2 linked regions of the Homo sapiens genome follow. The protein of the gene in region 1 purifies or fractionates together with the protein of each later gene. This does not show direct contact. Each region holds a gene or a part of one and is shown in the gene's direction. Other genes may lie near its edges.

Evidence for each region.
Region 2: the proteins of PARP14 (region 1) and DTX3L purify together in Homo sapiens (affinity purification with western blotting; 2 studies listed by BioGRID). This does not show direct contact.

The regions. Positions count from the first base shown.
Region 1 is NC_000003.12:122,725,725-122,731,361, forward strand, and holds the end of PARP14 (protein mono-ADP-ribosyltransferase PARP14), read left to right. Parts: intron 1-2,087; coding exon 2,088-2,262; intron 2,263-2,583; coding exon 2,584-2,873; 3' UTR 2,874-5,116; downstream 5,117-5,637. UniProt on the Homo sapiens protein: ADP-ribosyltransferase that mediates mono-ADP-ribosylation of glutamate residues on target proteins. In contrast to PARP1 and PARP2, it is not able to mediate poly-ADP-ribosylation.
Region 2 is NC_000003.12:122,559,960-122,567,348, forward strand, and holds the start of DTX3L (E3 ubiquitin-protein ligase DTX3L), read left to right. Parts: upstream 1-4,378; 5' UTR 4,379-4,467; coding exon 4,468-4,654; exon of another isoform or gene 4,655-4,825; intron 4,826-5,899; coding exon 5,900-6,111; intron 6,112-7,389.

The DNA.
Region 1 (5,637 bases):
ATCATCCAGCCTGACAATCTTTTATCTTTTAACTAGAGTACTTAATCTTACTTACTGTACTTACTGATATGTTTGGGTTTAAATGTACCATATTAATCTCTGTTTTCTATTTATCATATCTATTCTTTGTTCTTTTTTATCTTTTCCTGGTTTCTTTTGCATTATTTCTATTTCATTTTCACCCCTATTATGTTGTTAGTTATACATTCTAATTCTTTCATTGCTTACCCTAGAGATTATAACATGCATCCTTGACTTATTGAACTGTAATGTAAATTAGTATATTCATCATTCCCCAGACAATGCAAAGACCTTTGAATACTTTAAGCCTTATTTATCTCTCTTCTGCTTTTTGTGTTGCTTTTAACACACATTTTAATTCTATTTATATTTGAAACCCGATGAAACATTTTTAATTTGTTTATATTTATTTATATGTACCAACATATTTACCATTTATTTCCAGTGTCCTTCAATTCTTCCTATATTTCCATGCTTCCATGTGGGATAATTTTTCATCTAGATTTAGTATTTCTTCCAATGCAGATCTGGTAGTGATGAATTCTCTCAGTTTTTATTTATCTGAAAACGTCTCTTTCTCTTTCATTCTTTGAAGGATATTTTTGCTGGGCATAGAAGTTTGGATGGCAATTATTTTCTTTCAGCACTTTGAAGAAATTATTGTCTTCTGATTTTACTGTTTCACCATACTTCCCTTCTCTCTGCAATCTTAGCTCATCAAATCCTTGATGTCTTCAAATAGACTTTTCTCCCTCTCTAGCTCTTCTAGTAGTTGTTGGTGAGAGGTTGGTCTGATAAAAGTAATCTACCCTGGCTAGACATCTGCTGCTAATAATAAACCTACTAAATAAAGTTTAAGATTTATTTGCAATTTTTTTTACCTTAGAATTTATCCCATGAGAAATGTAGAATCAGGTTACTATATTCAAAAATTACTTGACATAATTATTTTTAAAAATTTTAAAAGGTAAGAAACAACCTTTTTAAATTTAAGAATTAAGAGACTAAGAAATTGAGAATTATTTCAAAACTCAAAAAATGTTGAAGGCTTTAAAAATGAGTAAGATAAAATGTAAGGTAAATGAAATGAATGTAGGCATTTTGAAGATTAGAAATTTAGCCGTAGGTAAAGAATACAAAGGAAAAATAATTTTAAAATCATCAACCAGATCAACAAAATATATGTTAATGCCGAGACTTTGAATTAGAGTGCGAATTGTATCTTAATTAAAAAGAGAAAACCCAAAACTGGAAAAAAAAAAAAAAAGAACCAGATGATGGCAGGTAATGGTGTTAAGCCTGAGAGTTCTCCAAAACGGAAAACATTCTGACAACATGGACAACAGGGAACCTTTACCTTGTGCATTTCCATGAGGGACTTTGGTCACCTTTACCCACCCCTCGGTCTTCCCAGGACAGCCTTATGAAACTGCTACTACTTGGGGACTAGGGGAGTTTAGAAGTAGAACTGCAACCCAGGACCCAAGCAGTTTCCACCACCGCCCTGGAGGCCACTGCCTAAAGAGTATGGTCAAAGCATGGCCACTTTGGTCTACAACATTCAAGATTCATGCACCGGTCTTCCAACTGGACCAGAGATTAATTTTCATTAGTTAATTTCATTCTTGCCTAGATATTCTGTTGCTTCTCTTACTGTTAGTACACAACTAGGTCAACCAGTATCCCAGAAGGACTGAGGTGGTGAGAGGCAAAGTGCAAAGTGAGGTGGACAGCAACAGGAGCAGTCATTAGAGTATGTGTAAAAAGCAGAAGTTGCAGAGGCTGGGTCAGCAGAATTCATGTCATGAGTACTTAAAATCCTAAACCTTGTTTGATCTCATGCGGTACATAAAAGATGTTAAAAATTAAACCAACATTCTTCCCATTGCCTGTTTTTATGAAACACTGGATCTAAAAAGGTTTCTGAATGCAGAAAGCTGCCGTCTGGCATTGGATTTGCTGTTTAGTGTGCTTTTATTTATGAAACATAGTGATCATGTTTCATTTGCTGTATATTGGCAAGTGCTCTTGGAACTGGCAGAATATTATCCTTTATTAATTTGCAGATTGAGAGGATCCAGAATCCAGATCTCTGGAATAGCTACCAGGCAAAGAAAAAAACTATGGATGCCAAGAATGGCCAGACAATGAATGAGAAGCAACTCTTCCATGGGACAGATGCCGGCTCCGTGCCACACGTCAATCGAAATGGCTTTAACCGCAGCTATGCCGGAAAGAATGGTAAGGAAGCGAGTAATCTGGCTGCTTGGAATGAGGCATCAGCCATGAGAGCCCGAGTTGGCTGGGACAGTGTGGATTCATTGTGGTCCCCCATCATTGGTGGCCATGTTGCAGCCCGAGTTTCAGGGTAGGACTCACTGTATTTCATCCCAAAGGGGATTGACTGGCCCTTCTAGGTAGAAAAATTGATGATTAAAAGTGAAAAGCACACACAAAAAATTTTAAGAGAGGCTTTAGAAAGAACATTATTTAACAGATTGGGCCAACATATCAAATTTTACATTAACTTGAAATGCTTAAAAATGGTTTTTCTTTTCACAGCTGTGGCATATGGAAAGGGAACCTATTTTGCTGTCAATGCCAATTATTCTGCCAATGATACGTACTCCAGACCAGATGCAAATGGGAGAAAGCATGTGTATTATGTGCGAGTACTTACTGGAATCTATACACATGGAAATCATTCATTAATTGTGCCTCCTTCAAAGAACCCTCAAAATCCTACTGACCTGTATGACACTGTCACAGATAATGTGCACCATCCAAGTTTATTTGTGGCATTTTATGACTACCAAGCATACCCAGAGTACCTTATTACGTTTAGAAAATAACACTTTGGTATCCTTCCCACAAAATTATTCTCCATTTGTACATATCTAGTTGTAAAACAAGTTTTAGCTTTTTTTTTTAATTCCTCTTAACAGATTTTTCTAATATCCAAGGATCATTCTTTGTCGCTGAAGTCAGTCTTTCTTCAGCTTCCCTTTCATAATGGAAATGAACTTATTATCTTGAGAGCAAATAACTTGGAAAATTTAAATGAGATAATGCAGTTGCAACTGTGTGTCCACAAGTATGGACATCAAATCTGTGGGAAAAGAACAGGTTTGTATTTTCAGGAAGGAGAGAATAACAGTCTTATAGACAGAGGGCACAGCTAAGCACAGCTGCCACTGCAGGAGACAGGCCCCATGTCAGGATGCCATAGTGCTGTGGGGAGCACAGTATTACCCAGTGGGTAGGGCTTCTGTCTTCCCTGGGAGCAGGGATGGTATCTTAGTCAATTTTTTTCCCTTGAGATGAGGTCTGTGCCTGATGTACAACGGATACTCCATAAATGTTTGACAAACCAACGAAGAATGAAAAAAAGCCTAGTCAGACTCCCATCCAAAGTAGGAACTATCTCTTTAACATTCTTGACTCACTATCACTTTACCTCAAATTGAACAGATTCCATGACGGAACTTCATTCTTCACAAACTAGCCAGTGACATGTGGGACAGCTCTGGCCAGGGCTCTGGGACTGCAGTGTACTTGCGCTCTGCACGGTCCAGGAGCTGTGATGTGGCTGTGGTCTAGGGGAATCCTGCCTGCCCCATGGAGTTGCGCAGCACAACCCTGGCTCCAATTGCCAGAAGGCTCTTTTTAATGCTGAACCAAAATGTGCCTTTTTTTTTTTTTTTTTGAGATGGAGTTTCACTCTTGTTGCCCAGGCTGGAGTGCAATGGCGCGATCTCAGCTCACTGCAGCCACTGCCTCCCAGGTTCAAGTGATTCTCCTGCCTCAGCCTCCCGAGTAGCTGGGATTACAGGCATGCGCTAACACACCCAGCTAATTTTGTATTTTTAGTAGAGACGAGGTTTCTCCATGTTCGACAGGCTGGTCTCGAACTCCCACCTCAGCCTCCCAAACTGCTGGGATTACAGGTGTGAGCCACCGTGACCAGCCAATGTGCCTTCTTATAGTGTCTACTCATTGGTCTTTGTTCTGCCCAGTGATAACAATGGGATAACGCCTGCTACACATCTTCATTGTGAAACCCTTCCCCTGTGCTGAGATTAAATGAACTCTAAGATTATTAAATAGTATATTTTCCTTGACAGCCTAGCGTTTGATGATTTTAAAGCCTTATGTATAAATAAACCAAAGGAAGTAAGCAGTCATATTGCTAATTTGCTAACTCCTATCTATTGAATGGTGAAGTTTTAAAAATTTCCCCAGGTAAGTTTAAGATTCAAACACCATCTATTGAGCACCTACATTGTGTGCCAGGTAGTAAAATAGGTGCTTTCATACACATTGTCTCAATTCCTGTGAGGTCAGAATTATCTCTGCATTTGAAACTTGAGGAAACATGCTCAGAGTGCAAGAAGCTTCCTTGCCTGAGATCACCTAGAAAGGAACCCTCAGAGCCGGCAACTGAATCTTGGTCCCTGTGATGTCAAGCCCATTGCTCTCCCACTGCAGAACATGGCCTCTAGATTAATGCCACCGATTCAGGAACACCTCCGACAGTCTTGAAATACCCCCATGTTGCCTTGTTTGTTTTTTCCTTCTGGCTTCTTCTATTACAGTCTCTTCATTGGAAGCTCTGTAGGCCAAGGCCAGAGCTGATACTGACACGGAGCCAATGCAGATAGCACATCAGATGCTAGGGGTCGCTGGGAGGATTAAGGGACTTAATCTGCTAGGAACACCTGTACTTGAAGTGGAGGAGGCTAGGGGGCCACAGTTGCTGCTTCATTAACATAGAGGTTTTGGATTTTTTTCTCTTGTGGTTTGTTTTTTAAGTGGATTGGCAGACTCCTTGTTGCTTAAGAGTGGCTTTCTAGGCAGGCCACTGGCATCTGAATTCATCATTGACAATAAATGTAAGAAATTGGAATAAAAAAGAGAGACCTGCTGTTATTCGCTTTTGTTCTCCAGTGATTTGATTAACTCAGGGCAAGGCTGAATATCAGAGTGTATCGCACTGAAGAATAATAATCCATTCAGTAATGTTATAGTTATCCTCAATCTAAATATGTCAACTGTCATTTTGCTACTTTTCAAATAAAATACTTGAAAACTGTCATTTAATGGTAAACATTTTTATCCTAAAGGGCAAATACAGGGGGGCTTAATGATAAACACAGACCACTGCTGATAATAATAATTAAAAAACAACTAAGTATGACAGCATGAAGGGATGCTCAGTGTATTAATATTTGGTTGAAAATTACAGGAAGGGGCACGATACAGCCATAGTTCAGTGAATCTGAAGGGCTTATTGACCCCAGCAAGTAGCCCCGGCTGAAACAAGTCCACTTTGCACCTGTGATAGGTCTTGATCGTTTACTCTAGGGTCAGAAATTCTCTTTTTTGGTATTTGGATCACCTGAGGTGTTTGCTGAAACTCCAAGCTCTGGCCTCATCCCAAAGGAGTCAGATTCTATAGCACTAAAGTGGTTCCCAAGAATCTGCATTTTGGGCAAGCACCTCAAATAATTCTGATATCTCTAACACCCAGAGCCACCTTAAAATGTTCATGGGCCTCAGGCACTTTTGCCATTGTGGGCCCTTTATTGCATAAAAAAATTAAATATAATTTGCAAC
Region 2 (7,389 bases), 170 kb from region 1:
GCTATATGGAGGAGTTGAGACTAGAGCCTGGTCATGAAGGATGCAGGAGGTTTTTACATATTTAGAAGAAGAGGGTGATAACAAAGTGGTGAGACTGAGAACAGCATTCAAAGAACAGTAAAGAAGACCGAGCTTATGAGTGAGTGAAGCCCCCTGGAGAGCGTTTGAAGAAAGAGGAAATGCCACTAGAGCCTGTGAGGGGGGTGTATTATTGAATTTGTGATAAACATCCTTGACCTAATGATAGGGGTATATCTGGTTAAAAGTCAGAAAATCTGGGAAAAATACTTTGTTATGATTTTCCATCTAATAGGTAGGAATTAAAGATTATGAATTTTTAGAAGACTGATGATGAAAATGCTTAAAGATACAGTTGCCCACACTTGTTGCTATATTTAGGCCTCGAAATGATTTCTTTGTTTGTTTTTTTGTTTGTTTTTTTGTTTTTTGAGTTGGAGTCTCACTCTGTCCCCCAGGAATGCAGTGGCTCGATCTTGGCTCACTGCAAGCTCCGCCTCCTGGGTTCACGCCATTCTCCTGCCTCAGCCTCCTGAGTAGCTGGGACTACAGGCGCCCGCCACCACGCCCAGCTAATTTTTTGTATTTTTAGTAGAGATGAGGCTTCACCGTGTTAGCCAGCACGGTCTCAATCTCCTGACCTCGTGATCTACCCGTCTCGGCCTCCCAAAGTGCTGGGATTACAGGCGTGAGCGACCGCGCCTGGTCGAAATGATTTCTAATGTCTTTGCAATAGAAACATTTTGTACAACCATCTACAGCATCAGAGCACTATTCTTACTCATCAAGGGAAAGCAGCAGGTCTAGTACAATCCTTTGCATTCTAAAATGCAAAGACAAGATGCATTTTTTGCCTCCAGAGGGCACTGCTGTTTTCAAAAAAGAAGGATGACTTCATCTGCTTTGGCCATGGGCTTTTGCTTTAAATGTTGCACCTGTTTCTGTCTTCAGGCCAAGTTTTACAGGCCTATGGATAGCCAAACAAGGAGCATAGTGCCCTAAGCATTCCATTTCTTCCATTTTAAAAACAGAAAAGCCTTCCCAACTTTCCATCACTGGTTCCTACTGTGTTTCCTTCTCTTCATAAGCAGCCAAACTTCTGGAATGAGTAGTGGACTCTCCTTCTGTCCACCTGCCCACTCAGCCTACTATAACCTGGCTCCCTGCCTCATTCCCAGCACCCTTTTGAAACTGCCAGTGGCCAGGCATGGCGGCTCACACCTGTAACCACAGCACTTTGGGAGGCAGAGGCAGGCAGATTGCTTGAGCTCAGGAGTTCGAGACCAACCTGGGCAACATGGCAAGACCTCATCTCTACTAAAAATACAAAAAGTTAGCTGGCCATGTTGGTGCATGCCTATAGTCCCAGCTACTTGGGAGGCTGAGATGGGAGGATCACTTGGTGGGAAGTTCAGGCTGTAGTGAGCTGTGATTGTGCCACTGCACTCCAGCCTGGGCAAGAGGAATGAGACCCTGTCTCAAAAAAAAGAAGAGAAACTGCTCATCAGAATCCCTCATGTGGTTAATGCCAATGGATTATCTTCTATCCATCTTTACTGGACCACTTTCTATAGTATTTCACTCTTTGATTCCTGAAATTCTGCTTTCCTGGCTTCTCCTATGCCATCTTCCCTTGGTTCTTCTATTACCCTTCACTTTGCCTTTACAGGCCTTTTCCCTGCGTTCACTTCCACCATCTCCCTCTTAATTGTTTGCCCCAGGATTCTGTCTAAGGCGTTTTTCATCTCATTCTGCATACTCCCCAGGAGTGATCTCATCCATTTCCATGGCTTCAACTCACCAATTGCAAATATGACTCTTATATCTGCAGTTCTAGGCCATGGCTCTCCTGAGCCCCATTTTTCAACTCCACCTGGAGGTCTCACAGTCCCCTCAAATTAGCCTCTGCAAAAGTAGACCTCTTATCTCCTGGTCCCCAATCCTCCATCCCACCCCCACCAAATCCATACTTTATCTCCTGGATTCTACAGCTCAGTAAATGATAATACCATTTACGTACTCAAATCAGAAATCTAGGAACTTTCCCTGAGTCTTTTTTGTCTCATATCTGGGACCTGACAAACTAAATCACTTTCAAATATGCCCCTTCCTTCCTCGCCCACTGACACTGCCTCACTTCAGAGTCTCAGCAACTTTTGCCTGAGCTGTGGCAATATACTCTTTTCTTTTCTTTTCTTTTCTTTTCTTTTCTTTTCTTTTCTTTTCTTTTTGAGACGGAGTCTTACTCTGTCGCCCAGGCTGTGGCGCGATCTTGGCTCATTGGAAGCTCCGCCTCCCGGGTTCACGCCATTCTGCTGCCTCAGCCTCCCTAGTAGCTGGGACTACAGGCGCCCACCACCACGCCTGGCTAATTTTTTTTTTTTTTGTATTTTTTTTAGTAGAGACGGGGTTTCACCATGTTAGCCAGGATGGTCTCGATCTCCTGACCTCATGATCCGCCTGCCTTGGCCTCCCAAAGTGCTGGGATTACAGGCGTGAGCCACCGCGCCCAGCCATCAATATACTCTTTTCAAAGATTTAAATGTACCTAGTTTGACATTTTATTGTTTGAATAGGTATTACATTTACATGGTTCAAATTTAGAAAATGTAAAAGGTTTCCTCCTGTCTCCGCTGCTAAATTCCCTGTCCAGAGTCAATCAGCGCTTCTCCTGTATTCTTCCAGTGGCATTTTTTACACGAAAGGTAGTAGCTTATACACACACTTCTGCATCTTATTTTTCCCACATAATGTATCCTAGAGATCTTTTCATGTTAGCACATAGAGAGCTTTTTCATTTTTCCTACTGCCCATTGTATTCCATTGTATAGATATACTATTATTATTAAACTGCTAGTCCCCCTATTTATGGGCATTAAAGAGTTCCCTATCTTTTGCTATTGTAAACAAGGCTGTAAAGAACATCTTTGTACACAGGTCACTTCACACAGGGGCTAATATATCAATGGGACAAATTCCTAGAAATGGAACTCCAGAACCAAAAAGTATATGCAGTTGTAATTCTGACAGTATTGCCAAATTGTTCACAGTAAAGACGGGCCCATTTCCAGTCTTACCAGCCATGTGCAAAAACCTTATCTCAGGCCTCTCTGCCGCCACTCATCCCTGCTTGTAAATGTGTCCTCCACACGGTTGTCAGCACCATATTTCTAAAATGCAAATCTGGCAAGTCATTTTCTTGCTTTCCCTGCTTAAAGCCCTTCAGGTCATCTTCACTGCTCTTCAAGGCTTTTCACCATCTAAATATGTCCTGTCCAGGGTGGACTATCAGCCTCACATAGCTACTGAGGCTACATGTGGCCAGTCTGAATCGAGATGTGATGTAAGTATAAGAAAAACACTGGGTTGCAAAGACGTGGTATGATAAAAAGAATGTAAAAATCTCATTACATGCTGAAATGATTAAGTTTTGGATATGTCAAGCTAAATAACATCATTACAGTTAATTTCATCTGTTTCTTTATCCTTTAAAAATTTCCTAAAAATCATTAAAATTAATTTCATCTGTTTCTTTATCCTTTAAAAAATATGGCTGCAAAAATTTTAGAATGAACCTACTGGCTCCCATTGTATTTCTGCTGGACAGTGCCCATCTAGGTAGGCTCTCCCTCCTTCATCCCCTCACCCATCTCCTCTCCTCCCAGGCCCCAGGCCCACTCTGTGCTTCAGACCACAGTGGTCCCTAAGCCTCAGGTGCTTTTCCCCCCAATCCTGTCCTCCCCATCTCGCCGCCACACTCAATTTATTAAGATTCTGCTTGAAACTTCCCCTTGGAGGCCTTGGAGAAGTTTTGCTCCTTGGTTCACAGGTCCGCCTCCCCTCACCAGCCCTTGACATCAGGGCCTTGCTCTGCTCTTTGGGCAGCAAGAAACAATTCAGTGCTGTTGGTTAAATCAAGCAATGGAGGAGAAAAGCCCGCAGAAGCCCGTCTAAAGGGTAGAGTTGGAGGGAGGGAAGGGGTAACAGGTCACAATTACCAGATGAACACATTCAAATTTTCAAAAATGGGTAAGTTTAACATGGATTCAGAATGTGAATTACTTTTTAGGATCAAATAATAGTGGTAACAGCAGTAAGAGTTACAAAGAATAAGAAACACAGGAGAAACTTACTTTCTTTGCATAGTCTACTCACAAGGGAGGCCTGGCCCTGGGACCCGGGTCCGCGCCCGTCCCCCTTCTCCCCGCCCACCTCGAGCCTGCAGGAGAGGGGACCCCGAGGGCCCAGAGGCACCGGACCTACTCACCCGGCAGGCCGCTCTCCTCGGTGCAGACAGCACAGGGAGGAGGGGGAAGCGGCTCTGCCGGGAACAGGGAGGGACCTCCAGGGAAGCGAAACTGAAACTTTGCGCCCAGTCCGCAGGGCGGGCCGCGCCTTTACCGCCCAGCTGCCTCCCGGAGCCCCCGCGCCCTCCCGACGCGCAGAGCCATGGCCTCCCACCTGCGCCCGCCGTCCCCGCTCCTCGTGCGGGTGTACAAGTCCGGCCCCCGAGTACGAAGGAAGCTGGAGAGCTACTTCCAGAGCTCTAAGTCCTCGGGCGGCGGGGAGTGCACGGTCAGCACCCAGGAACACGAAGCCCCGGGCACCTTCCGGGTGGAGTTCAGTGAAAGGGCAGGTGAGCTTCGGGCGGCCAGGCTGCGAAAGCCCTCTGGGGGCCCGGCCCCCGGGTTTCCAGGCGGACCCAGTTCCAGCTGACCTAGGGGAGAGGGCGGGAGAAAGTATGTCACTGTGCGGTGGCGGACAGGGACGGGGCCCTACTGCCAAGAGACTCACTGAGACAGTGAACACTCGGTGGAGGATGGGGCCTCACATGTGCCTGGTGCGGGTCTGGCTGACGGCGCCTTAGTGTGGATGCTTTCCATATCCTCATTCTAACTTAATTTCTCAGCTGTCATCTTCCTTCCCCCAGATGCCTGCCAGCTGCTGTCCTTGTCATTCAGGGATTCCACTTTTATGTTTTAAATAATGGTTCCATTGTTCCATCCATGAACAAAAGGATGTTCCATTTTGTGTTTTTGAGGATTACAAAAGTGATATATGCTCACTATAGAAATAAAAGAGTAAAAAAGAAAACAACCTGAAGATAAACAATGTGACCATTTGGTGTATTTCCTTCCTGCCTTTTTTTATGAATGCCAGCAAACACATGTATATTTACAAAATTCGGAGTCTGCACTTTTGATTCCTGCTGTTGTCACTTACCTGTATAATGAGTATTGAAATGGGAGACTGGGCCGGGTGCGGTGGCTCACGCCTGTAATCCTAGCACTTTGGAGGCCGAGGTTGGTGGATCACCTGAGGCCAGGAGTTCGAGACCAGCCTGGCCAACATGGGGAAATTCCGTCTCTACTAATAATACAAAAATTACCCGGGCATGGTGGTGCGCACCTGTAATCCAAGCTACTCTGGAGGCTGAGGCAGGAGAATCGCTGGAACTCGGGAGGCAGAGAGGTTGCAGTGAGACGAGGTCCTACCATTGCACTCCAGCCTGGGTGACAGAGTGAGACTCCGTCTAAAAAAAAAAAAAAAAAAAAAAAGAAGGAAGGAAGGGAGGGAGGGAGGGAAAGAAGGAAGAAGGAAAGGGGAGACTGGAGACAGTTTTAGAAACATGATGTTTAATCGGTGGACAATGTTCCATTGTCATTAAGCTTTCACTTCTATAGTAAAACTTAATCCGCACACTTTAGAGCTCTTAATAGCTCCCCGACTTTCTCCATCGCCAACCCACCATTCCAGGATGCAGGGAGCAGCCTTACTGGGAGGTGCTGGGGCAGAGTACAGACACAGGAATGAGAGGATTACTTGAAATCTCTCCCATTTTTATGTGTGTATATGTGTGTGTTTAATGTCTCCACTGAAGCTAAGGAGAGAGTGTTGAAAAAAGGAGAGCACCAAATACTTGTTGACGAAAAACCTGTGCCCATTTTCCTGGTACCCACTGAAAATTCAATAAAGAAGAACACGAGACCTCAAATTTCTTCACTGACACAATCACAAGCAGAAACACCGTCTGGTGATATGCATCAACATGAAGGACATATTCCTAATGCTGTGGATTCCTGTCTCCAAAAGGTGAGTATTGAAAGAAGGAGCTGGCTGTGCCTGCGCCTCCTCTCCAGTCACCAGCCTCATGTATTATTGATCCAACACCCATGTGCTGGGCACGTACATGGGAGCCAGGCACTGTTTTAGGCACTGGACACAGAGATGAATATAACAGACAAGGCCCCTGCTCTCAGGCAGCTTATACTGGGGGCCAGGTCATGCACAGAAAGACAGTAGGCAAGTAAACAAAATAAATAAAACCATTTTATTTATTTGGAGAGAAACAGCGCCAGGGCAAGCAAGGGGAAGATGGGGGTGGTGTTACTTCTTTTTTTCCCCCCAAGACAGAGTCTCACTTTATCGCCCAGGCTGGAGTACAGTGGCACAATCATGGCTCACTGCAGAGTTGACCTCCTGGGCTCAAGGGATCCTCTCACCTCAGTCTCCTGAGTAGCTAGGACTATAGGCGCCACTACACCCAGCCAATTTTTTTTTTTTTTGTAGAAACAGAGTCTCACTATGTTGCCCAGGCTGTTCTCAAATTCCTGGGCTCAAGCGATCTGCCCGCCTTGGCCTCCCAAAGTGCTGGGATTACAGTCATGAATTACTGCACCTGGCCTGGTGCTACTTCTAACCAGAAATCAGAGACAACTTGACTGAGGAGGTGATGTTTGGCCTGAAACTTGAATGATGACAAGATTCATTCAACAATAGATATCCACTGCCTACTGTGTTCCAGGCACTGTTATAGGAGCTGGGGAGGCAGCCAGGAACATGGCAGACTCGGCTTCCAGGGACGGCACCTTCTAGAGAGAGAAACAGACAATATTAGTAAACAATAGATATATAATAAAATGTCTGCCAGTCATACCTGCTAGGAAGAAGAATAAGTGACAGACAGTGACAGAACCACCATTTAAAATAGGATGTCTGGAAAAACCTCAAGTGAGGTGACATCTCTAGCCAAGTGGATTTCTGGGCGGAAAGTGTCCTAGAGGGAAGCATAGGTGCAAAGTCCCCAAGAGCTGACATTTTGAGGCCCAGAAGCTTTAAGGAAGCCAGTGTGGTGGGGAGGGCAGTGAGCAATGGAGAGAGGTGCTAGGAACTCGGGAAGGTACCCAGAAGACAGGCCTTTGGGGCTGAAGGTAAGGATTTTGGATTTTTAACTTAAAATGTTAGGGGATTCATCAGATAGTTTTGAGCCAGGGGAGAGGGCGATCTGGTTTATATTTCTAAAGGGTCACTCTGGCTGCTGTTGGAAAACTGAACGTAGAAAGGGGATAGAATGGAGAGTTAGAGCCTGGT